2 linked regions of the Homo sapiens genome follow. The protein of the gene in region 2 interacts with the protein of the main gene of each other region in a pairwise test. Each region holds a gene or a part of one and is shown on either strand. Other genes may lie near its edges. The genes, in order: PADI4 and ANXA4.

Region 1 (11,507 bases), on a different chromosome or scaffold from region 2:
ATTAAATGAGTCAGTGCAGGTAAAGAATGCAGCACTGGCTAACACACAACTCATTCTCAATAAATGCAACTATTATTATTATTGTTCTGTGCTGAGTTTGCATCAACCTGCCAGGCTAGTCAAGCATGAGTCAGCAATACGTCACTTCCCACCTCCACATGGACAGCCTGTGGCTGATAAAGTCACACCCAGGAAATGACCACTGATCCACTGATCCCAAAATCCCCCATATCCCAGATGGAGCCCCTGAAGACCAAACACCACCCATAAGACAGAGCCTCCAGCTGGGCATTGGGAAAGATTCCAGCCCCGGCCCCACCTCCACCTTGCAGCAAGAGCTTCTTCAAGAGCACAGGGAGGTCCAAGCCTGAGCCACCTCCTCGGCAGGGTTACCTGGAGATCAAGCTGAGCTCACGGGTGACAAGGGTTTTGGGAAATGAAGAGCCAGATCTTATCTTGGTAATAAAAAAATAACAAGCCCCACCTACATGCTCCCACTTTGGTAGGAATTCCACCTCCTTGCACTGGGCTACTCAGCTACAGGCGCGGGCGGGGAAGGCAGGCTAAAAGGAGGGAGTCTCAAGACAAGAGGGTTTCGGCAGCTGTGCCCCCTCCCCACCCCATGCAGGTACCATCACGCGTTTGATGGGAAACTCCTTCAGGCCTCTGTTCCTTGGAGAGTCGAAGACCACGGGCAGCGTTTTGTGTGGGGCTTGGATGTAGCCGATCTCCATTTCATCCTGTGGGAGTGAGTGGAGAGGAGGCTGTTGCGCGTGCTGCCTGGGTCTTGGTGCCCGACGCCAGGATGGGGGCATGAAACCATCCACTCACTCTCACCCTTGCAGTCAAGGGCACATTCCTATGGGATGTTTGATCTCAGAGAAGGGGCTCAGAAGCGGAGCTTATTGCCCCCTGTTTGCCCAGTGCACGAGAGGCCATGAGCCTGCAGGAGTGCCCTTCCCTCCTACTCCTGGTGGTGCCTGGGCCAGTGCTGGGGACCCCTGGTGAGCAAAACTGAGACCCCTCCTCAAGGTGAGAAAACAAGGGAGCCAGGCAGTGGGCACCAGGGTTAGGAGGTGATGGGGGGTGAGGGGTTGAGGGGTCTGTGGGGACACAGAGGAGGGGCTCCTGATGCAGCTAGGATGGGCCAGAGAAGACCTGTTGGCGCCAGAGCTCGCGGCCTCCTCCCCAAAGGAGGGCAGATAAGACCCAGCCTGGGCCACTGGAGCAGCAGGAGGAGCACGGGGAGGTTTCAGAAATGAATCTGCTGAAAATTCCGCCTCCGCAGGCTTGTATTCTAGCAGGCAGGTGTGATGTTGGACATAATCACTACTATAAGTTACTATTAGGATGAACCAGATGAAAGTTCCACTCTTGCAAATCAAAAATGGCACATATCAGCAATTTCACACAGGTCAACTTGGTATCAAAAAAATGGAATGGCGGCCAGGTGCAGTAACTCATGCCTGTAAGCCCAGCACTTTGGGAGGCTGAGGTGGGTGGATCACCTGAGGTCAGGAGTTCGAGACCAGCCTGACCAACACGGAGAAACCCCATCTCTACTAAAAATACAAAATTAGCCAGGCGTGGTGGCACATGCCTGTAATTACAGCTACTCAGGAGGCTGAGGCAGGAGAATCATTTGAACCCGGGAGGCAGAGGTTGTGATGAGCCGAGATCGAGCCATTGCACTCCAGCCTGGGCAACAAGAGTGAAAAAAAAAAGAAAAGAAAAGATGGAATGGCAAGAAAGGAAGAAAGGATGTTGTGTGGGGGTGAAAAGAAAGAGGGATGAATTCCTGCTGGGGGTGATGGGGGAAATTTATGGACGAGGAGCATTTGTGCTGGGATTCACCGGTATGGATTGGAGATGGGGGATGGGAATGGGGAGATGGGTCCAAGAGACAGCACCGCAGGGGTGCGGCATGGAAGGACAGGGTCCCGAGGCAAAGCAAGGCAGTGGTGGGGAGGGTCAGGGTGCTAGGCTGGATGAGGCCCAGTCTCAGTCCTTGGGGCACTCCTGGCATGATGGGGGAGTGGCACGGAAACAGAGACTGGTAATCATGTGTTTCCAGGCACAGTGGCAGGCTGGCCCCAGGGAAGGGAACCAGGCAGGCTGAGAGGGCCTGGAAACAGACTAAGCAGGAGGAGATGGGAGCCATGGAAAGTGCTGGAGCTGGGGTGTGACCTGCTTTGGTGGCTGGGCCCAAGATGGACAGCCTGGAGGGAGGACCACTTGAGGGGCTGGTTGAGCACCAATCTCCTGAGCTTCACATCATTTCCTGAGGCCACCTGAGTGTTTTCAAGCAGGAAGGTGGCTTCATCTTGGTGACTGCAGTGGGCCTGCAGTGGCCCACAGCAAACGTCAGATGAATCACTTGCTTGAGCCTCCCGGCCCAAGGATCTCTCAGGTTCCTATCTCCCTGTCCATCTAAGGAAGAGTGGCCGGTGAGGCACCAGGCTGAACCCCAGGAGCCCGGGTCCCCCAAGTGTCTCTTGGCCCTCAGGGACAGTCACCCTGCCTGCCCCGCAGGGCACATACCTGCATCCACTGGTCATCCATGTTCTCCTCCTCAGGGCAGATGGTCAGCTTGCACTTGGCTTTCATGGCCAGAGTAGTCACTGACTTCAGGAAGTCCTCATTTTCAAAAATACTAGAGAGAGCAGAAAAGCAGCTCCTTAGTGCTCTGGAATTTGAAGCTCAGCCTGGAAGGATTGGGAGGGACACACAGGTGGCTCAGGGGTCACCTGTGGCCTGAACAGAGGCTCCTGGCACGTCCGGTCCATCTGCTCTTAGCAGGCATTAGCTCATGGAATCCATCTAACAAGTTATGAGGCAGGAACTAGTGGGTACCCCTTCCACCCGTGTATTAGTCCGTTTTCACGCTGCTGATAAAGACATACTTGAGACTGGGAAGAAAAAGAGGTTTAATTGGACTTACAGTTCCACATGGCTGGGGAGGCCATGGTGGGAGGCAAAAGGCACTTCTTACATGGCGGTGGCAAGAGAAAATGAGGAAGAAGAAAAAGGAGAAAAACCTGATAAAACCATCAGATCTCATGAGACTTATTCACTATCATGAGAACAGTATGGGAGAAACTGCCACCATGATTCAAATTATCTCCCACTGGGTCCCTCCCACAACACTTGGGAATTATGGGAGTACATGTCAAGATGAGATTTGGGTGGGGACACAGAACCAAAGCATATCATCCTGCCCCTGGCCCCTCCAAATCCTATATCCTCACATTTCAAAACCAATCATGCCTTCCCAACAGTCCCCCAAAGTCTTAACTCATTTCAGCATTAACCCAAAAGTTCACAATCCAAAATCTCATCTGAGACAGGGCAAGTCCCTTCCTCCTATGAGCCTGTAAAATCAAAAGCAAGCTAGTTACTTCCTAGATACAATGGGGGTACAGGTGTTGGGTAAATACAACCATTCCAAATGGGAGAAATTGGCCAAAACAAGGGGGTTACAGGGCCCATGCAAGTCCAAAATCCAGCAGGGCAGTCAAATTTTAAAGCTCCAAAATGATCTTTGACTCCAGGTCTCACATCCAGGTCATGCTGACACAAGAGGTGGGTTCCCATGGTCTTAGGCAGCTCTGCCCCTGTGGCTTTGCAGGGTATAGCCTCCCTCCTGGTAGGCCAGTTTCACAGGCTGGTGTTGAGTGTCTGTGGCTTTTCCAGGCACACGGTGCAAGCTGTCAGTGGATCTACCCTTCTGGAGTCTGGAGGACAGTGGCCCTCTTCTCACAACTCCACTACGTGGTGTCCCAGTAGGGACTCTGTGTGGGGGCTCCAAACCAACATTTCCCCTCTGCACTGCTGTAGCAGAGGTTTTCCATGAGAACACCACCCCTGCAGCAAACTTCTGCCTGGGCATCTAGGCGTTTCCACACATCTTTGGAAATCAAGGCAGAGGTTCCCAAACCCCAATTCTTGACTTCTGTGCACTTGCAGGCTCAACACCATGTGGAAGCTGCCAAGGCTTGGGGCTTCCACCCTCTGAAGCCACAGCCTGAGCTCTACACTGGCCCCTTTTAGCCATGGCTGGAGCAGCTGGGATGCAGGGCACCAAGTCCCTAGGCTGCACATAGCATGGGGACCCTGGGCCTGGCCTACGAAACCATTTTCTCCTAGGCCTCTGGGCCTGTGACGGGAGGGGCTGCCATGAAGACCTCTGACATGCCCTGGAGACATTTTCCTCATTGCCTTGTGGCTTAACATTAATCTCCTTGTTACTTATGCAAATTTCTGCAGCTGGCTTGAATTTCTCCTCAGAAAATGAGATTTTCTTTTCGATTGCATTGTCAGGCTGCAACTTTTCTGAACTTTTATGCTCTGCTTCCCTTTTAAAACTGGATGCCTTTAACAGCACCCAAGTCACCTCTTGAATGCCTTGCTGCTTAGAAATTTCTTCTGCCAGATACCCTAAATCATCTCTCTCAAGTTCAAAGTTCCACAAATCTCTAGGGCAGGTACAAAATGCCACCAGTCTCTTTGCTAAAACATAACAAGAGTCACCTTTGCTCCGGTTCCCAACAAGTTCCTCATCTCCATCTGAGACCATCTCAGTCTGGATTTCATTGTTCATATCATTATCAGTATTTTTGTCAAAGCCATTCAACAAGTCTCTAGAAAGTTCCAAACTTTCCCACATTTTCCTGTCTTCCTCTGAGCCCTCCAAACCGTTCCAACCTCTGTCTGTTACCCAGTTCCAAAGTTGCTTCCACATTTTGGGTATCTTTTCAGCAACGCCCCCCTCTACTGGTATCAATTTACTGTATTAGTCCATTTTCACGCTGCTGATAAAAACATACCTGAGACTAGGAAGGAAAAGAGGTTTAATTGGACTTACACTCCCACATGGCTGGGGACACCATGGTGGGAGGCAAAAGGCACTTCTTACATGGCGGCGGCAAGAGAAAATGAGCAAGATGCAAAAGTGGAAACCCCTGATAAAACCATCAGATCTCATGAGACTTATTCACTACCATGAGAATGGTATGGGGCAAACCACCTCCATGATTCAAATTATCTCCCACCAGGTCCCTCCCAGAACACGTGGGAATTGTGGGAGTACAATTCAAGATAAGATTTGGGTGGAGACACAGAGCCAAACCATATCAACTTGGGAGAAGACAGAATATGAGTTCACTGTTCAAGGTCACACCACCTGGAACAGTGCTGGGACCGGAATACAGTCCTCACTGGATTCCAGCCTGCGTCCTGACCACATTACCCTCTTACTCTTCTGCCCCTGAAGCTATCAGAAGAGGGGAGGAGAGGGTCTCCTGAGACCCCAGCACACTTGTCAGCGGCTCTCAGACTGCAGGAAGATTGCCTGGGCCTCCCCAAAATGCAGATGGGCCCCGTCCTCAGGGATAAGACCCAGCAGCTCACAGGCAGCCAGAAAGGTGCATTTTATTTAATTTAAATTTAATTTAATTTAATTTAATTTTTAATTTTTATTATTTTTAATTTTCTCAAGACGGAGTCTTGCTCTGTCGCCCAGGCTAGAGTGCAATGGTGCAATCTCGGCTCACTGCAACCTTGGCCTCCTGGGTTCAAGTGATTCTCCTGCCTCAGCCTCCCGAGTAGCTGGGATTACAGGCACATGCCACAACACCTGGCTAATTTTTTGTATTTTTAGTAGAGACGGGGTTTCACCATGTTGGCCAGGCTGGTTATTTTATTTTTGAGATGGAGTCTCACTGTGTTGCCCAGGCTGGAGCGCAGTGGCGCAATCTCAGCTCACTGCAACCTCCGCCTCCAGGGTTCAAGCAATTCTCGTGCCTCGGCCTCCTGAGTAGCTGGATTACAGGCATGCGCCACCACGCCCGGCCAATTTTTGTATTTTTTAGTAGAGACAGGGTTTCACCATGTTGGCTGGGCTGATCTCAAACTTCTGACCTTAAGTGATCCACCTGCCTCAGCCTCCCAAAGTGCTAGGATTACAGGCGTGAGCCACCGTGCCCAGCCCAGAAAGGTGCATTTTAAATGAGTTCCCAGGAGTTTCTGGTGCACAAGGTCCATGGGACACACTCTACAGGCCCCTGGGAGTTAACGTAGCCTCAGCTGCATCAGGGCAGGACAGAGGCAATGACAACAACAGTAGGGAACTTCCCTGCCTTTTTAGAGCCCCCAACAAGCAGCAAGCTCTCAGTGGGCAGGGGAGGGGTGACTGTTTTTCCCATCACACAGTGAGTGCTGCGGATGGAACTCAGGCTCTTTGTTGTCTGGACCCACCCCAGCACCCCAGGACCTCTCACCTGCACGCGTACACCTCCTGCGGGGGCTGGGTGTTGGGGGTCATGATCCAGGGCGCCACGCGGAAGACCACGCTGTCTTGGAACACCACAGCCTCGGGGAGCTCCTGCAGGGGAGGGGGTAAGGGGAAGGAGGGGCTGTCACCGCTGCCAGGGCCCAGCACCTACCACTTCCTGCAGCTGTTTGGAGTCCCCCTGCCCAGCTGGGCTCTGTACCCCTTTCCCTAGCCAGGCCACTGCCTGGAAGCCCAGGCCCCCGATGCAGGGCTGCCTTCTCGGCCTACCAGGTTGGACGTGTCCAGCAGGGAGATGGTGAGGGTAATGAGCCCCGGGAAGTCGGTGTCCGGGAAAGCGAGGGCCTCCACGTAGAAGTCCATGTTGTGCTTTCCACCGGGGACCATCAGGTAGTGAGAGGGCCACTTGGGACCCAAGACTACGCTGCACTTGGAGGACAGTTTGCCCCCTAGGAGAGAGGCAGGGGAGACTCAGGTCTGCGTCCCCACTTCTGAAGACTTTTCCTCCTCTCCTTAGTGCTCCCCAGAAGCCTTTCCCAGGGTCACCACATGGCACCATCAGAGAACCCCTTGCAGCCAAATCTGGCCAGTCCCCTTAGGAGAAAAGGACTGAAGTTCTAGCTGGGACGCTGCTCCCCGGCTGAAGTCCCAGAAGGGTGTGGCAGGGGTGCCTGAGCTATTCCAAACTTTATAGGAAGTCCAGTATACACCATTCCTTCACTCATTCCTGAGCATCTGCTCTAGCCAGATGTCAGCGGGGGACAGGGGCACAGCAGGGGACCAGGGAGACAGAGTCACTGTCCTCCTATCCTCACCCCCAGAGAGTGCACAGTCTTACGGGTGAGTAGGGAGAAGCAGAGATCATGAAAATAGCAGACAGCTGTGATAGAGGGAATCCCTGAGAACTTCCTGGAGGAGGTGATGCCTGGGTGGAGGCAATAAGTTGACCTGTCACCAAATCAGTGTCAGTTTAATCACTTTAAGAATGAAACAGGCCGGGTGTGGTGGCTTACGCCTGTAATCCCAGCACTTTGGGAGGCCGAGGCAGGAGGATCACAAGGTCAGGAGATCCAGACCAGCCTGGCCAACATGGTGAAAGCCCATCTCTACTAAAAACACAAAAAAATTAGCCAGGCATTGTGGTGGATGCCTATAATCACAGCTACTCGGGAGGCTGAGGCAGGAGAATTGCTTGAACCCAGGAGGTGGAGGTTGCAGTGAGTTGAGATTGCGCCACTGCACTCCAGCCTGGCGACAGAGAGAGACTCCATCTCAAAAAAAAAAAAAAAAGAAACAGAGGCTGGGCATGGTGTCTGTAATCCTAGTGCTTGGGGAGGCTGAGGCAAGTGGATCATTTGAGGTCAGGAGTTCGAGACCTGTCTGGCCAACCTGGTGAAATCCCATCTCTACTAAAAATACAAAAATTAGCTGGATGTGGTGGCACATGCTTGTAACCTCAGCTACTGGGGAGGCTGAGACAGGAGAATCTCTGGAACCCAGGAGGTGGAGGCTGCAGTGAGCCAAGATGGCACCACTGCACTCCAGCCGGGGCAACAGAGTGAGACTCTCTCAAAAAAAAAAATTAAAAAAAAAAAAAAAAAGCTTGGAATAGACCAGGCAGAATGATCAGGATCAGAATGATTGTCAGGCCCATGCAAAAAAAAAACCCTCCCATGGCGCTCTCCATCTCCTTCCATCCAGAAGCCAAAGTCAATATACGCCTACCTGACCTCCCCCTTCCCCTCTGCCCTGTCTCTTCCACCCTCATCCCCCACTTTAACCCTTGCACATTCCGCCCCAGCTGCACTAGCCTCCCTGCATTCCTCCAAACCACAGGCATGATCTCACCTCAGGGCCCACGCACTTGCCGTTCCCTCTGCCTGGAACGCCCTTCCCCTAGGTGTCTGTCTGGCTGTTCCTATACCTCCCTCTGCTCACATGGCACCTCATGGGGGACACCTTCCCTGGCCACCCTCTCTCCACACAACCCGAACTCCACTCCTCACTCCACATCCCCTTCCCTGCCGCATTCTTCTACATAGCATGTCACAGCGTTGGACACACTAGGTGTTTTATGTAATTATTTTACCTATAGTTCTCCCAGCCACTAAGATGAAAGCAACACGAGGGCAGGGACTCGGTCACAGTCATGGCTCTGTGCCCCGTGCCTGGGATCAACCTGGCACCTACTTAGTTGCAGGTGCTCGTGGGTCACTGAGAAGTTCCTGATGTCTCTGATTAGCAGGATGTTGCAGAACAAATGATTACATGCCACATGCTGTCAGCTTGCACTCAAAGTCTATAACCAGGAGGTGTGTGTGTGTGTGTGTGTGTGTGTGCGCGCGCGTGTGTGAGAGAGAGAGAAAGAAAAGCAGGGAGCAATAACGAGTCATTTTGTCTGTGTCCTCCAACTGGAAGGTAGTAGACGAGATGTCGTCTGTCTTGCCCACTGCTGCGTCTGCTGTTCTTAGAACTTGGCACATAGTAGGTGCTCAGGATTTATCTGCCACACAGCTGTGTGACAGGATTGTGCCCCGTTGGCCAGGGCAGGAGGGGAACAAAGATGGGGATGACTTACGTGTGGCCTGAAACACCCTCACTTTGTCCATCTCAGACCTGGCCACGTGGAGCACCAGTGTATGGTTTGTGAAGAAGTCCTTGGGGGTCTTCGTGCTCAGGGTCATCAGCGACATGTCCTGCAGGTCTGGGATGAGAAGGGCATTGCCTGAGTCACAGGGCCCTGAGACCGCTGCTGGTTTCCCATAGCCACCTCACCTCCTGGTGGAGCCTCACACCCCACCGCTCCCCTGAGACCTCCCTTTACCATGTTGCCTGGTTTTCTTTTCTTTATGCTATTTTGAGTATTTAAATGATGGTTTTCATTTTGGAATGAGAGCTCATTAAGGTTTTGGTCTCCTCCCACTAGGATGAGCTGGGGATGTAACCTCAGCAAAGCGGGGACCACATTTATTAATATTTTGCTCCTTGCAACGTTCCCTGAATCTTGAACCTAGAAAGCCGAGAACTCCCTAGAACAATGACCAGCAGGCGGCAGGCGCTCGGCTGAGATTTGTGCAATGAACGAGTGAAAGGTTTCTGTGCTGGTCCTGAGCAAGAAGTGGGGTTTGTGAACCAACTTGAACAATAGCCAAGAAGGGGTAGAGGGTGGGGAGAGTGAAGAGATGGTTCCCAAGGGACTGACTGATAGCCAAGGGCTTAAAGGCTTTGCGGTCAATTTGGTTTGAATCTGGGATCTGGGTGGGCTTAGGAAACGGATTTCAGCTTTCTCTGCCTCTGTTTCCTCATCACTAAGACAGGGGCAAGAGTTGTACCCACCGTAGAATGGTTGTGAAGATAAAGTCAGGTGATACACAGTGCTTATACCAGCTCTTGGCACCCCGGGAGTGCCCACAAAGGACAGCTGTTGTGATTATTACCGCATGTCAGGCACTGTACAGAGGCTGTCCCCTGGCATCGGGCCAGGCCAACTACATGCAACTTGAAAATACATCCATTTCTATGTTATTCTAAGAGCTCCCCAGGAAGGCCTGCCAGCCAGAGCCCCTTAGCACCTTCCTCCAGCGCAGGTGGATAATGTTTCCTCACTTCAACCCCGGAGCCACCCCCTTAGCAGCCCAGAGGTTTGCCTGCAGAGATCCTGCATTCCCCACCATCCTCATGCCTCTAAACCTGCTCCGGTGTTGGGACGTCCGGGGTTCAAACCCCGAGTCTGCTACGTGTCAGTGCTGTGACCTTGGGCAAATTGCTTAAGTTCCCCGTGCCTTGGTTTTCCTACCTATAAAGGTTTGTGTTGGAAGATCAGATGAGTTAATCATTCCAAAGTGGTCAGAGTCGTGCCCGGCCTATGGCAGAGGTCTCAGGGCCTGCTCTGATATGAGTTTGGGAATGAAAAGCTTTCATTTCGAAGGATTTCAGGCTCCAGGTTTGACCTAAGAGCGTTTAGGTTGGGCAGCAGGGTGAGGCATGGAAACCAGGGCCTGTAGGAGGCATCAGGAGACAGCACTGGCCTCAGCTCTTCCCTGACCGCTGCGTGAGCTTGGGGAGGTCACTTGACCCCCGAGGGCCTTTGCCCATTGCTTCACCTATAAAACAGATTTGCCAACAAGAAGATGCTTTCAATAACCCTTATTTCAGAGGGCCGTCACCAGGTTCAGGCTATGTGGGCAAAAGGGCTTTATAAAAAGCCCTTCCCGTTAGCTAGCAAATGCTCTTTACCTTCGCTGTCAAGCACTTCATCATCCTCGCAGTCCATGGCAGAAGATTCGAGATTGTCTCTGTCACAGTTCACCAGCAGGATGGCACCCTGTCCACAAGGGCCCCAGGTCCAGGTCCTCTGGACACCAGCAGGGAAGAGTCATGCTCAGAAACTAGCATAGAGCCCTCCAACTCTTGCAAGAGGCATAGCAACTCCCCATCACCTCTTTTTTAAAATTTATTTATTTATTTATTATTTTTTTGAGACGGAGTCTCCCTCTGCTGCCAGGCTGGAGTGCAGTGGCGTGATCTTGGCTCACTGCAACCTCCACCCCCCAGGTTGAAGTGATTCTCCTGCCTCAGCCTCCTGAGTAGCTGGTACTATAGGCGCATGCCACCACACCTGGCTAATTTTTGTATTTTTAGTAGAGATGGGATTTCACCATGTTGGCCAGGATGGCTCAATCTCTTGACCTCATGATCCATCCTCCTCGGCCTCCCAAAGTGCTGGGATTACAGGCATGAGCCACCACGCCCGGCCCCCATCACTTCTTTAACCCAGTGCAGTTTACACATCTTGCTTCCACATCAATTAATTATTTGATCTCAGGAGTGGATTTTTGCCTTTTACTCCAAAAGTCACAACCAAATTCACCCAAAACACAATTCATCCATTTAAAAAAAGGAGCCCAAGACAGTCACATGGATTTTAACAGCTTTTAAGAAATGTTGGCTGGGCGCAGTGGCTCACACCTGTAATCCCAGCACTTTGGGAGGCTGAGGCAGGCAGATCACCTGAGGTCAGGAGTTCAAGACCAGCCTGGCCAACATGGCGAAACGCTGTCTCTACTAAAAATACAAAAATTAGCTGGGCGTGGAGGCATGCACCTGTAATTGCAGCTACTCAGGAGGCTGAGGTAGGAGAATCACTTGAACCTGGGAGGCGGAGGTTGCGGTGAACCGCCCCTGCACTCCAGCCTGGGAGACAGAGCATGACTCCATC
Region 2 (11,507 bases):
ATCCTCCAAGTCCTCTCTGAACCAGCATCTCTGTCATGAAGGCTTTTCTTTGTTTCTACAACCAAATTTTCTCCTTGAATCTTCTTTTTCCTATGCGCCTCTCCTTTGGCATGTAATCTTTTCATGCCTTCTAGCAACTGTGTACCTGATGTATTCCCTTATGACAATATATACTCTTAAGGCCCAGGAACTGCCTCTGAATCATCTTCATAACTCTCAATGCACTGAGTGACAGGGGGACCTGGCAGGTGTTAGGTACTTGTAAATATCAAATTAAAGTAGAAAAAATGGGCAGGCAGGATTAGCCAGAGTCTCTGAAGGAGAAATAAGATAAAGGAACAGAGGGGTCTGAGAACACTACCTGGGGAATATCCACATGTCAGGGGCTGAAAGGATGAGAAAGGCTGGCAAAGGGGATAGAGTGGACATTTCGATAAAACCCGCCCCCCATCAGAAGCAGTCACTCACAGCTGACAGAGACACCAGCACTCGCTGGAACATGAACGATGTGTCAGAGCGAATGTCATCTTCAAGGCTCCGTCCATATTCTAGCAAGAGAGTGAAATTAGCTACTTCAGAATTAAGAGTCTTGCCCAATGCCCTGTCACACTCCAGAGCAATCTGTCCCCTCAAGACCAGCCTGCTTATGGAAGCAGCTTATCATGAGGTTTTTTCACCCCACACACAGTTTTTCAAAAACTAAACTCTGGTAAAATGGTCAAGATCAGCTTATCCTGTCACACGATATTCCTGTTTTTGTTTTGTTTCTTTTGAGATGGAGTCTCATTCTGTTGCCCAGGCTGGATGGAGTCTGGAGTGCAGTGGCACCATCTCAGCTCACTGCAACCTCTGCCTCCTGGGTTCATGCAATTCTCCTGCCTCAGCCTCCCAAGTAGCTGGGATTACAGGTGTGCCCCACTATGCCCAGCTAATTTTTGTATTTTTAGTACAGACAGGGTTCTGTCATTTTGGCCAGGCTGGTCGTGAACTCCTGACCTCAGGTGATCCGCCTGCCTTGGCCTCCCAAAGTTCTGGGATTGTAGGCGTGAGCCACCGCACCCAGCCAAGATATTCCTGTTTCTTAAAATGTGGGGTTGAAAAAGCTGGGTCTGAAATCCTCCCTCTGTGCTTCCTGCCACCCAGGGGTCCGATCTGAACGTGGTTCTCAGTGACACAGAGGGAACCACAGCTGTGGAGCAGCCTCTGCTGCTTCACTGATGGAAAGCAACCAGATAGGAGCTTCTGAACCCAGCTTTGAGGTGGGGCTGGGGTTGGAGCGCTGTCAAATGCAAATCCTAGCATATGCCTCTCTGCCACGTCTCTCACTTGGGAGGTTCTGACAGGTTATCCATGAGAAGCTCCACGGCCGAGCGCAGTGGCTCATGCCTGTAATCCTAACACTTTGGGAGGCTGAGGAGGGCAGACTGCTTGAATCCAGGAGTTCGAGACCAGCCTGGGCAACATGGTGAACCCCCATCTCTACAAAAAATACAAAAATTAGCTGGGTATGTTGGCGCATGCTTGTAGTACCAGCTACAGGGGAGGCTGAGGTGGGAGGATCATCTCAGCCTGGGGAGGTCAAGGCTGCAGTGAGCCATGACCATGCCACTGCACTCCAGCCTGGGCCACAGAGCGAGATCCTGTGTCAAAAAAAATAGGCAGGGGGAGCTTCAGCAAGAAATTAAAAATCACTTCTTCATAATTAATTTTTAAAAAGCAAAAACGAAAAGAGAAGCTCCAGCCCTTCACAGCCCTCAGGGAAGAAAACCCTCATTGGGCAGATGTGGGGATTGGGTTGCTAAATCCAGACTCCTAAGGTTTAGAATCTCCTGCTCTGAACACTTCCCACAAAGCTCTTATTGTGGTTGTTTTCTTTCTATAAAGGTAACACATGTTGACCACAGAAGGCTTAGGAAAAAACAAATAAGTAAAAAGAAGGGGCAAGGCGAGGAACTCCACTGCAGTCTAATCACCCAGAAATAAGAATCATTGACAACATTTCTGTAAATATCCTTCCTCATTTTCCCCCACATGCACAAATTATTTTCATTTATTTAAAAAATACTGTGTTATTAACTGTGTTAATTTTTTAAAAATGGGATCATAGCATACTATTTTATGGCTTGTCTTTTTCACTTACATATACCAAACCATTTAATAAATATTTTAATAGTATTCTTGGCCAGGTGTAGTGGCTCACATCTGTAATCCCAGCACTTCGGGAGGCGGAGGTGGGCAGATTGCTTGGGCCCAGGAGTTTGAGACCAGCCTGGGCAGCATGGCGAAACCCCATCTCTACAAAAAATACAAAAATTAGCTGGGTGTGGTGGCGCACACCTGTGGTCCCAGCTACTCAGAAGGCTGCAGTGGGTGGGTTGCTGAAGCCCAGGAGGTCGAGGTTGCAGTGAGCTATGATGGGGCCATTGCATTCCAGCCTGGGCAACAGAGTGAGACCCTGTCTCAAAAAAAAAGGCTAAATAAAAGAAAAAAATACTCTTTAATATAAGTTTTAATGACTACATAATAGTTCATTGTGTAAGTGTATAATATTTTGTTTAGACAATCTGCTACTCTTGGGCATTTTTAGCTAATGTAGACAATGCTGAATAAACACTGTGAGATCTGAACCTCTGTGCATTTTTAGTTATATTCTTAGGGCAAAAAGTCAGGCATTTTTTAAAGGCACTTCATACGTATCACCCTCTGGAGGTCTCTAAGGGGGAGTGAATGGCTGTCATTCTGATTTGGCTGGAGGACGTACAGTCCAGTCTGAAGGGAAGAATTTGGGCCAGACGGCCCCTCCAGACCATTCCTTGGAATGCTAAGATCTGCTGGTGCCACCACTTTTGAACAAGTACCTTAGATTCTTTGTCTGATAATAAGGAACAACTTTCCAACTTTTAGGGTAATAAAATACTGCACTGGGTAGGCAAAATAGAGTGTCATCTTCACCTGAGAAATCTTAAGGAGCCAACAGACCGCCATTTGGCTAAACAGGGATCTCCCTCGAAGCAGAGCTTGGCACCGAGGATCCCTCATGCTCAGCGTTCTGTGAAAAGTCTAATCAGCAAACAACAACCCGCTGCTACCCTCATTCTCTAATCACAGCGAAACCTCAGCCAGGGCCACTGCGGATGTCACGTACGCTGCTGGTAGGTTTGGCTTATGCGCCGGATCTCCTCAGGGGTCCGGGAGGCCAGGATCTCAATTAGGCAGCCCTCATCAGTGCCGGCTCCCTAAACAAGAAACCAGAGGACAGGGCTATATGAGCCAGTTTACAAAGCTGAGGCCCAGACACAGAAGGAATACATCTGTCATGAATCTGCAGAGAATAAAGACAATCCACTGCGTTCTAACAACAGGGTTTGTTCACTTTTATTGTCCCACCCGAAACCCAAAGTGTTTGCCGTAACAATTATGAGTAATAACAAACATTTCTAGGCTGTTTATTATGTGTTCGTTACTGTGCCCGGGTAGGTATGGTTTCTGCCCTCTGGGGACTTAATTTTTCCTTGACCTCTTCTGCTCTCTTCCTCTGAAGGGCAGAATTTTCTGGCAAAGACTTTGTCACCTCTTTGCTTTCCCAGAGCCTGGCCCAGAACCTTCCACAAGTCTGAGTATTTATTGACATGGTTGAGGAGGATAATTGTACTCCTCGACTTATGATGAGGAGTACAATACACTGAAAATTTTTAAGTAGAACCATCCTAAGGTGGGGACCATTTATATTTGCATTACATACTTGGTCATTAAAATTTGGCAGACCAGGCTAGGGCACAGTGGGTACGTCATCTAGGGAAGCCAGGAACTCTTTTGCCAGAAGTAAGCCTATAGTAGACCTGGAGGCCCCTAAAGTGTCAGTCATAAAGTTACATATCTCAAAAGTAGTTAGCTGTCTAGAGATAGCTAAAAGTCTCTAGAGCTGTACTAAAAGCGACAATTATAATCACTCCCCATTGAGCCACAGGAAGGAGCAAATGATTCCCTAACTTTTTGGAAAAGAACTTTTAAATTATAATTGGTATAATGTAAAGTAATGATGTTTTCAAGTTGTCGTAAATGAAGGAAAATCTCCTATACTTTACACCTGCTACTCTCAGAAGGCCTTGGTCATAGTTTCTTTCTTTTTTAAAAAAATTTAACTTTTACTTTAAGTGCAGGGGTACATGTGCAGGTTTGTTATATAGATAAACTTGTGTCATGGGGGTTTGTTGTACAGATTATTTCATTACCCAGGTATTAAGCCTAGTACCCATTAGTTATTTTTCCTGATCCTCTCCCTCCTCCCACCCTCCATCCTCCAACAGGCCCCAGTGTGTGTTGTTCCCCTCTATGTGTCCATGTGTTTTCATCATTTAGCTCCCACTTGTAAGTGAAAACATATGGTATTTGATTTTCTGTTCCTGCCTTAGTTTGCTAAGGACAATGACCTCCAGCTCCATCCATGTTCCTCCAGAGGACATGATCTTGTTCCTTTTTACAGCTATTCCATGGTGTACATGTACCACATTTTCTTTATCCAGTCTACCATTGATGGGCGTTTAGGTTGCTTCCATGTCTTTCTTATTGGGTGACAGTTTCTTAAGAAAGCACATCAGCGTTTGCACCAACAGCACCAAGAGCACGAGAGGAAGAGCACAGACCTTCATGGCCCTTCGCAGCTCTTGCACGTCATACAGCACCGTGGGCGTCATCATCCCCACAATCACCTGCTCGAAGTTGCCACTCAGTTCTGACTTCAGGTCGTCTATCAAGTCCTGCAATGCAAGAAAGTAGCTCCGCTTAACTGCTATAGCAAATTAGACCAGCTACTCTCCAGGTGTGGTCCAGGGATGTCTGGGGTCTCCAAGACCCTTTCAAGGGGCCTGCAAGTCAAAACTATCCTCAGAATAACACTCAGATGTTATTTGCCTTTTCACTGTCATTCTTCCACAAGCATACAGTGGGGTTTTCCTAAGGCTATTTGACATTGTCTGTGCATCAACAACTGTCTGTTCAAATACTCCCCCCATTTTCAAGTACATATCTGTACAAGCCAGATTTTCTTCATATACCCCAACCAAAACCACATATCATAACAAATTGAAGTAGAAATAGATATGAGAAGCCATCTGTCTTCCATTAAGCCAGACATTAAAGAGATCTGCAAAATGTAAAACAATGCCAATCTTCTCACTAAATGTTTTTTCGTTTTGGGATATATAGCTATTTTTCATTAAAATGTTATTTACAGTAACATACAATATACTTATTATTTTTACTAAGTTAACAAATATCTATTTTTAAATGCCCTCAGTTTTAGTTTCTAATAGGGCAAATATCAAAAGATATAACCCACAAAACCAAAAGTCCTAAAAAATTTAAGAGGTAAAGGAACTTTGAGGTGAATATGTTTGTAGACACCGATGTAAATGTATTTGCCTACTTAACAATATGTCTTGAATATACTTCCAAGTCAATATTCACTGATAACCTTTTTAGCAGCTGTGGAGATTTCTATAGATAGGTGCAACATAATTTCTTTTTTTTTTTTTTTTAGATGGAGTCTTGCTCTGTTGCCTAGGCTGGAGCGCAGTGGCACGATCTTGACTCACTGCAGACTCCGCCTCCTGGATTCAAGCGATTCTCCTGCCTCAGTCTCCCAAGTAGCTGGGATTACAGGTGCCCACCACCATGCCCAGCTAATTTTTTTGTATTTTTAGTAGAGACGGGGTTTCACCATGTTGGTCAGGCTGGTCTCGAACTCCTGACCTCAAGTGATCCACTCGCCTCGGCCTCCCAAAGTGCTAGGATTACAGGTGTGAGCCACCACACCCAGCCTAATTTCTTTAACTAGTCACCTGTTTCTATTTTTCTACTGTTATATACATAAGGCATTTAGTTGTATCTTTGTGATCATTCATGACTATTTCTTAAGGCTCAATTCCTGAGATATAGTTTCCAAATATAATTATTTGGAAAATGGACCAAATTCTAAAGATGTTTATTCACATTTCCTCCTGGAATGGGTCAGAGAGTTTAAGAACTTGTTTAAGATCAATTGACGAAGAAGGAGCTGAATCGCTATTCTTTTTTTTTTTTTTTTTTTTTTTTTTGAGATGGAGTCTGTCTCTGTTGCCCAGGCTGGAGTGAAGTGGCATGATCTTGGCTCACTGCAACCTCCACCTCCTGGTTCAAGCAATTCTCCTGCCTCAACCTACAAAGTAGCTAGGATTACAGGTGCTCAGCACCATGCCCGGCTAATTTTTGTATTTTTTAAGGAGAGATGGGGTTTCACCATGTTGGCCAGGTTGGTCTCAAACTCCTGGCCTCAAGTGATCCACCCACCTCGGTCTCCCAAAGTGCTGGGATTACAGGTGTGACCCACCACACCTGGCCTCAAGAACATCTTTAAACAAGACAAAGGATCGATCTTTTAAAACACAAGGTCACTTCGGGAACCTAGATCAGGAAGAGGCCCTGCTTCCTGTTGCTGCGAAGTCAGCCAGACAGAGCAGGAAAGACTGTGGCCTACCCTGCCGATGGTGCTCTTGTAGGCTGTCCTGATCTCCTGGCGCTGGGCGGTGTTGCGGTAGGCAAGGACGCTAATAATGGCGTCTTCATCGGTGCCTGGGGGAAGAAGGGAGACAGCAGGTAAGTGTGATTTGAGAGAGGAATGAGAAAGCAGGTTCCTCTGTGGACATTGGAGTTACCCAAACACATGCAGAGGGCTTTCTAAGAAAAGAGGCCCTTATTCAGAGGGTTTGTCTACTTTTTGGGAAACAGATGCTAGGTTCGGGACTTAGCCTCTCCTTTAATTAGCTGTTTACTACTGAAGAAAATGGTTAACTTTCTAAACATTAGTTTCCTTATCTGCAAATGTGAATGATGACAGTGATTTCCCTCGATAGGCTGCTGCAAGTGTTAATATAATTAAATGCCTAGCACTTACTAAACATTTAATAAATGTTGGCTGGAGTAATTTTTTCTCTCCTCTAGAATATTTTTTTTTTTTTTTTTTTTTTGAGAGAAAGTCTCACTCTGTCACCCAGGCTGGAGTGCAATGGCGCGATCTCAGCTCACTGCAACCTCCGCCTCCTGGGTTCAAGCGATTCTCCTGCCTCAGCCTCCTGAGTAGCTGGGATTACAGGGCTGTGCCACCACCCCCAGCGAATTTTTGTGTTTTTAGTAGAGACAGGGTTTCACTATGTTGACCAGGCTGGTCTTGAGCTCCTGACCTCAAATGATCTGCCCTCCTCGGCCTCCCAAAGTGCTGGGGTTACATGTGTGAGACACCACGCCCAGCCATCTCCTCTAGAATTCTTTTCATGTCTTTTGAATCTCCTCTCTCTCTCTTCCATATTCTTGCCTTTTTTTTTGTTTTTATCTTTTTATCATCTCCTCTGAGTTTTGAAACAATTCAAACTTGTCTGTTAATTCACCAATTTGGCATTTTGCAGAGTTTAAGTTGGCTGTTACTGCATTCACTGTGTTTTAAAATCTGGAACTATGTTTTGCACTTCTAAGCTATCTTTCCTGAACACAAATGGTTCCCTTTTAGAACTGCTGACAAATTACCATGATACAACATCTTACCAAAACTTTAAGCAAAAATTACAAATTAAAAATGTTCTAAGTTTTGCTTGCCTGTTTCTTGCAGCAGCTTTAACAAGGAGACTTTATTCTGATTTTTCAGATTGGTCCCTTGTCTTTATAACAGCTGGCTGTTCATAAATGTTTGGTGAATCTTCTGTTTCCTCGTTGTTTGTGCTGTATGGGGGGTTGGAATGGGTTTCAGAAATGATTCTATTGAAAATATTTCAGGGAGAAATGAAAAAATACAGCCAAACTTTAGTTATCCTTGGCAAGGTTAGAGATGCAAAAAGATGTGAGGTGTGGAGAGGAAGCTATAGAACTTTAAGTTTACATACCTTGGGGACCTACTTTCTGTTCCTTTTTTTTTTTTCTTTTTTTGAGATGGAGTTTCGCTCTGTCACCCGGGCTGGAGTGCAGTCCAGCTCACTCCCTCTCCCTCCCAGGTTCAAGCAATTCTCCTGCCTCAGCCTCCCTAGTAGCTGGGATTACAGGTGCCTGCCACCATGCCTGGCTAATTTTTTTTTGTATTTTTTACTAGAGATGGGTTTCACCATGTTGACCAGGCTGGTCTTGAACTCCTGACCTCAGGCGATCCACCTGCCTCAGCCTCCCAAAGTGCTGAGATTACAGGCATGAGCCATCATGCCCAGCCGTGTTCCTATTTTTAAAAAGGAGAGGACAATCCATATAACAATCAATTTCTCCCTTGGCACTCTCAGCTAGGAGGGGGTGTGGAAGGGGCAGAGAGGGTTCATTACCTTTTGTTCATTCCCTGTTTCTGTGAAAGGGATCACTCTTCCCCCCAGTCAAGCCAAGCTGAAATCCTCAAAATAGATTCAATTTTTTTTTTTTTTTTTGAGACAGAGTCTTGCTCTGTGGCCAGTCTGTAGTGCAGTGGTGCCATCTCGGCTCACTGCAACCTCTGCCTCCCGGGTTCAAGCGATTCTCCTGCCTCAGCCTCCCCAGTAGCTGGGACTACAGGTGCACGCCACCACGCCCAGCTAATTTTTGTGTTTTTAGTAGAGACGGGGTTTCACCTTGTTGGCCAGAATGGTCTCGATCTTTTGACCTTGTGCTCTGCCCACCTAGGCCTCCCAAAGTGCTGGGATTACAGGCGTGAGCCACTGCACCCAGCCCAATAGCTTTGATTTTTTTACCCTCTCCTTTCCTCTTCATTCAAGTCCACGGTCATGCAAAATGTTGCTTTACAGCCTCTTTTGCATTCTTTCACTCTTTTTATTTCCTATCACAACCATTCCAATTCAAGATTTCAGGGTTTCTTCTTAGACAAGTGCAGATGTCTGCTAACTAGTATTCTTAACTCCTGGTTGGTCTTCCCAGAGTCTTGCCAGATTCATTTTTGTAAAAAGAAAAACTCTCACAATGTCTCTCCCCTGCTCAGAAATACACAATGGCTCCCCATCATCTGCTGGATTTACTTTAGGCACTGCAGCCTGACATTTGAGACTCTCTACAGTATCCCATTCACTATTGTAAATAGCCACATAAAAGGACACTAGGCAGCCAAATTCATGGACTCAGCTCTTGAAATATTGTGCTTTACCCAACTGTGCTGCACTCCAGGCTCCTGACCCCCTTCATTACCAGTCTATTGGTTTATATGTCCTCTTAACCCCCTCCATTTAGCATCATGATTCTGTCATATGTTGTTTCCCAGCCAGTGCCTGTGGGTCATTCCCGCATGTCTGTGATTCTTATGGGTGCTTTCTCAGTAGCACCCCTAAAACCTCCTTCTGGTACCTGCTTTCTCAGAAAGCTCCCAACCAGCCTACTTCTGCTTTGCAAGTACCTCCTGCTGATACAGGAGATAGAAAGAAATTGTTTAAGCAGATAGTGAGGGCAGGTCGGGTGTGGTAGCTCATGCCTGTAATCCTAGCACTTTGGGAGGCTGGGGTGGGTGGATCACTTGAGGTCAGGAGTTCAAGACCAGCCTGGCCAACATGGTAAAACCTTGTCTCTATTAAAATATAAAAGTTAGCCAGGTATGGTGGTGGGGGCCTGTAATTCCAGCTACTCAGGAGGCTGAGGCATGAGAATCACTTGAACCCGGGAGGTGGAGGTTGCAGTGAGCCAAGATCATGCCAGTGCATGCCACAGCCTGAGTGACAGAGCGAGGCCCCATCTCAAAAAAGAAAAAAAAAACAAAAAACAGATAGTGAGGGCAAAAGAGTCCTTGGCAGAACTTCCCTTGTAACAAAAAGCAGCCCCCAAAATCATTTTTTTTTCTAACAAAGAGCAGCCTGAAAAATCAAGCTACAAACGTAGATAAGGAAACTGAAAGCTTGCACAAGGGAATGCTGGCCGCTGTACCAACAGAAAAGGGCTACCTGGGGGCCAGGCATGTCCACCATGGAAACTCCACCTTCCCTTTTTTGTTAGCATGTGTACAGTAAGAAAGAAATGACCAATACAGTACAGCTCAGGCTGAAAACCCACCTGCATAATAAAAGACTGGGGTAGGGACTGTCAGAGATTCATGCCCTATGCAGATAGCACACCTGTTTCTAACTGGTTTTTGGTGCCCTATGTAGATCAGACATCAGCCCCCCAACCCCCAGTGCCTGCCACAGCTCATCTATAAACCCCTCTGCATTTCACCGTGAATTGGTAACCCATTTTTCTGGAATCCCTCTCTGTAGCAGAGAGCTAGTCTCTTTCTTTTCCCTATTAAACTTCCACTCTTAACCTCACTCTTTGTGTGTCTACGTCCTTGATATCTGTGGCCGTGAGACAACAAACCATGGGTGTCACCCCAGACGAGGCCACTTCACTGCTGCAAGACACTTTTCTGTGGATTTACCATGACTCCCCTAGACCTCCGCACATGCCATTCCATTCACCTGAAACACCTTGTCCCTTAATTCTGTTTACAGAAACTCAATCATCTCCCAAGGTCCATTTTAACATCTACATCCTCCAAGAAGCTTTGCCCGATGCCCCCAAGTGAAATGTGATCTCTTCTCTTTGAACCCCAGTGGGATCTTATTTGTGCCCCTCCTGTCACTGTTATATTATGAATTAATCATAGTTATTTTTGTGCATGCCTTAGCTGTGCTAGTATTCATAGACTATTTGAACACAAGAACTAGGGATTATAATCCTTGTCTTCTCCAACAGTCTGCCTTGCATTGGCCCACACATAACAGGCACTGAAAAGGGGTTGGTTGTGCCAAATGTCTCCTCACCCTTTATGCTGATAATTCTGAATGTAACATGGGCTACATTTTGAATTATGGTGTCCTTGTAACCAAAGAATTAGGATAAACTGAAAAAAAAGGTGGGTCCTATGCCTTTCTCTTTTTATGAAAAAGGGAAAAGAAGAAGATACATAGATTCAGGACAATGTTCTCTTCAGAGATGGGCAGCAGCATAGAACAGTGGCTTGAACTCCAGCTCTGGAATCAGACTTGAGGCAGCTGATCATGCAAAGATGAAAGGAAAGTGTTCTAGGAATTATCTAGAATCCTGAATATACCACTTAATAGTTCTGAGACCGTGGGCAAGTCAGCCAGCCTCACTCACTATACTTTACCTTCTCAACAGTAAGACAAGCTTCTGTCAGGATTAAAACAGATAACCCATGGAAAGCATCTATCTCTATGTCTGACACATAGTAGAGCTTAATAAACATTTTCTATTATTGCTACGGTTGTTGTTACTGTTAGCAACATTGAGGCTGAGTAAAATGAATTCTTTTTGGATAGAAAGATGGTCTCATGGTCAAGTGTTTTTACCCAAATCTCAAGGAGATTCTAAATAGCAGCTAAGAACCAGGGGATACTTCTCTGGCCAAAAGTCTACTGAGACAAGGTCTTGGGGGCAGAGGCTAGGCCAGGTAGTTTGTGGTGCACATAGAATCACTGTACCTACCCAGCATGAAGGTGTTGGCCCCCAAGGAGCTAACTGGAGGG

Evidence for each region.
Region 1: the proteins of ANXA4 (region 2) and PADI4 interact in binary tests that used the Homo sapiens proteins (3 or more experiments, as listed by UniProt).

What each region holds. Positions count from the first base shown.
Region 1 is NC_000001.11:17,337,174-17,348,680, reverse strand, and holds part of PADI4 (protein-arginine deiminase type-4), read right to left. Parts: intron 10,644-11,507; coding exon 10,526-10,643; intron 8,994-10,525; coding exon 8,868-8,993; intron 6,739-8,867; coding exon 6,560-6,738; intron 6,383-6,559; coding exon 6,279-6,382; intron 2,654-6,278; coding exon 2,542-2,653; intron 741-2,541; coding exon 633-740; intron 1-632. UniProt on the Homo sapiens protein: Catalyzes the citrullination/deimination of arginine residues of proteins such as histones, thereby playing a key role in histone code and regulation of stem cell maintenance.
Region 2 is NC_000002.12:69,799,635-69,811,141, reverse strand, and holds part of ANXA4 (annexin A4), read right to left. Parts: intron 7,750-11,507; exon of another isoform or gene 7,627-7,749; intron 6,610-7,626; coding exon 6,515-6,609; intron 4,758-6,514; coding exon 4,644-4,757; intron 3,237-4,643; coding exon 3,146-3,236; intron 549-3,145; coding exon 469-548; intron 1-468. UniProt on the Homo sapiens protein: Calcium/phospholipid-binding protein which promotes membrane fusion and is involved in exocytosis.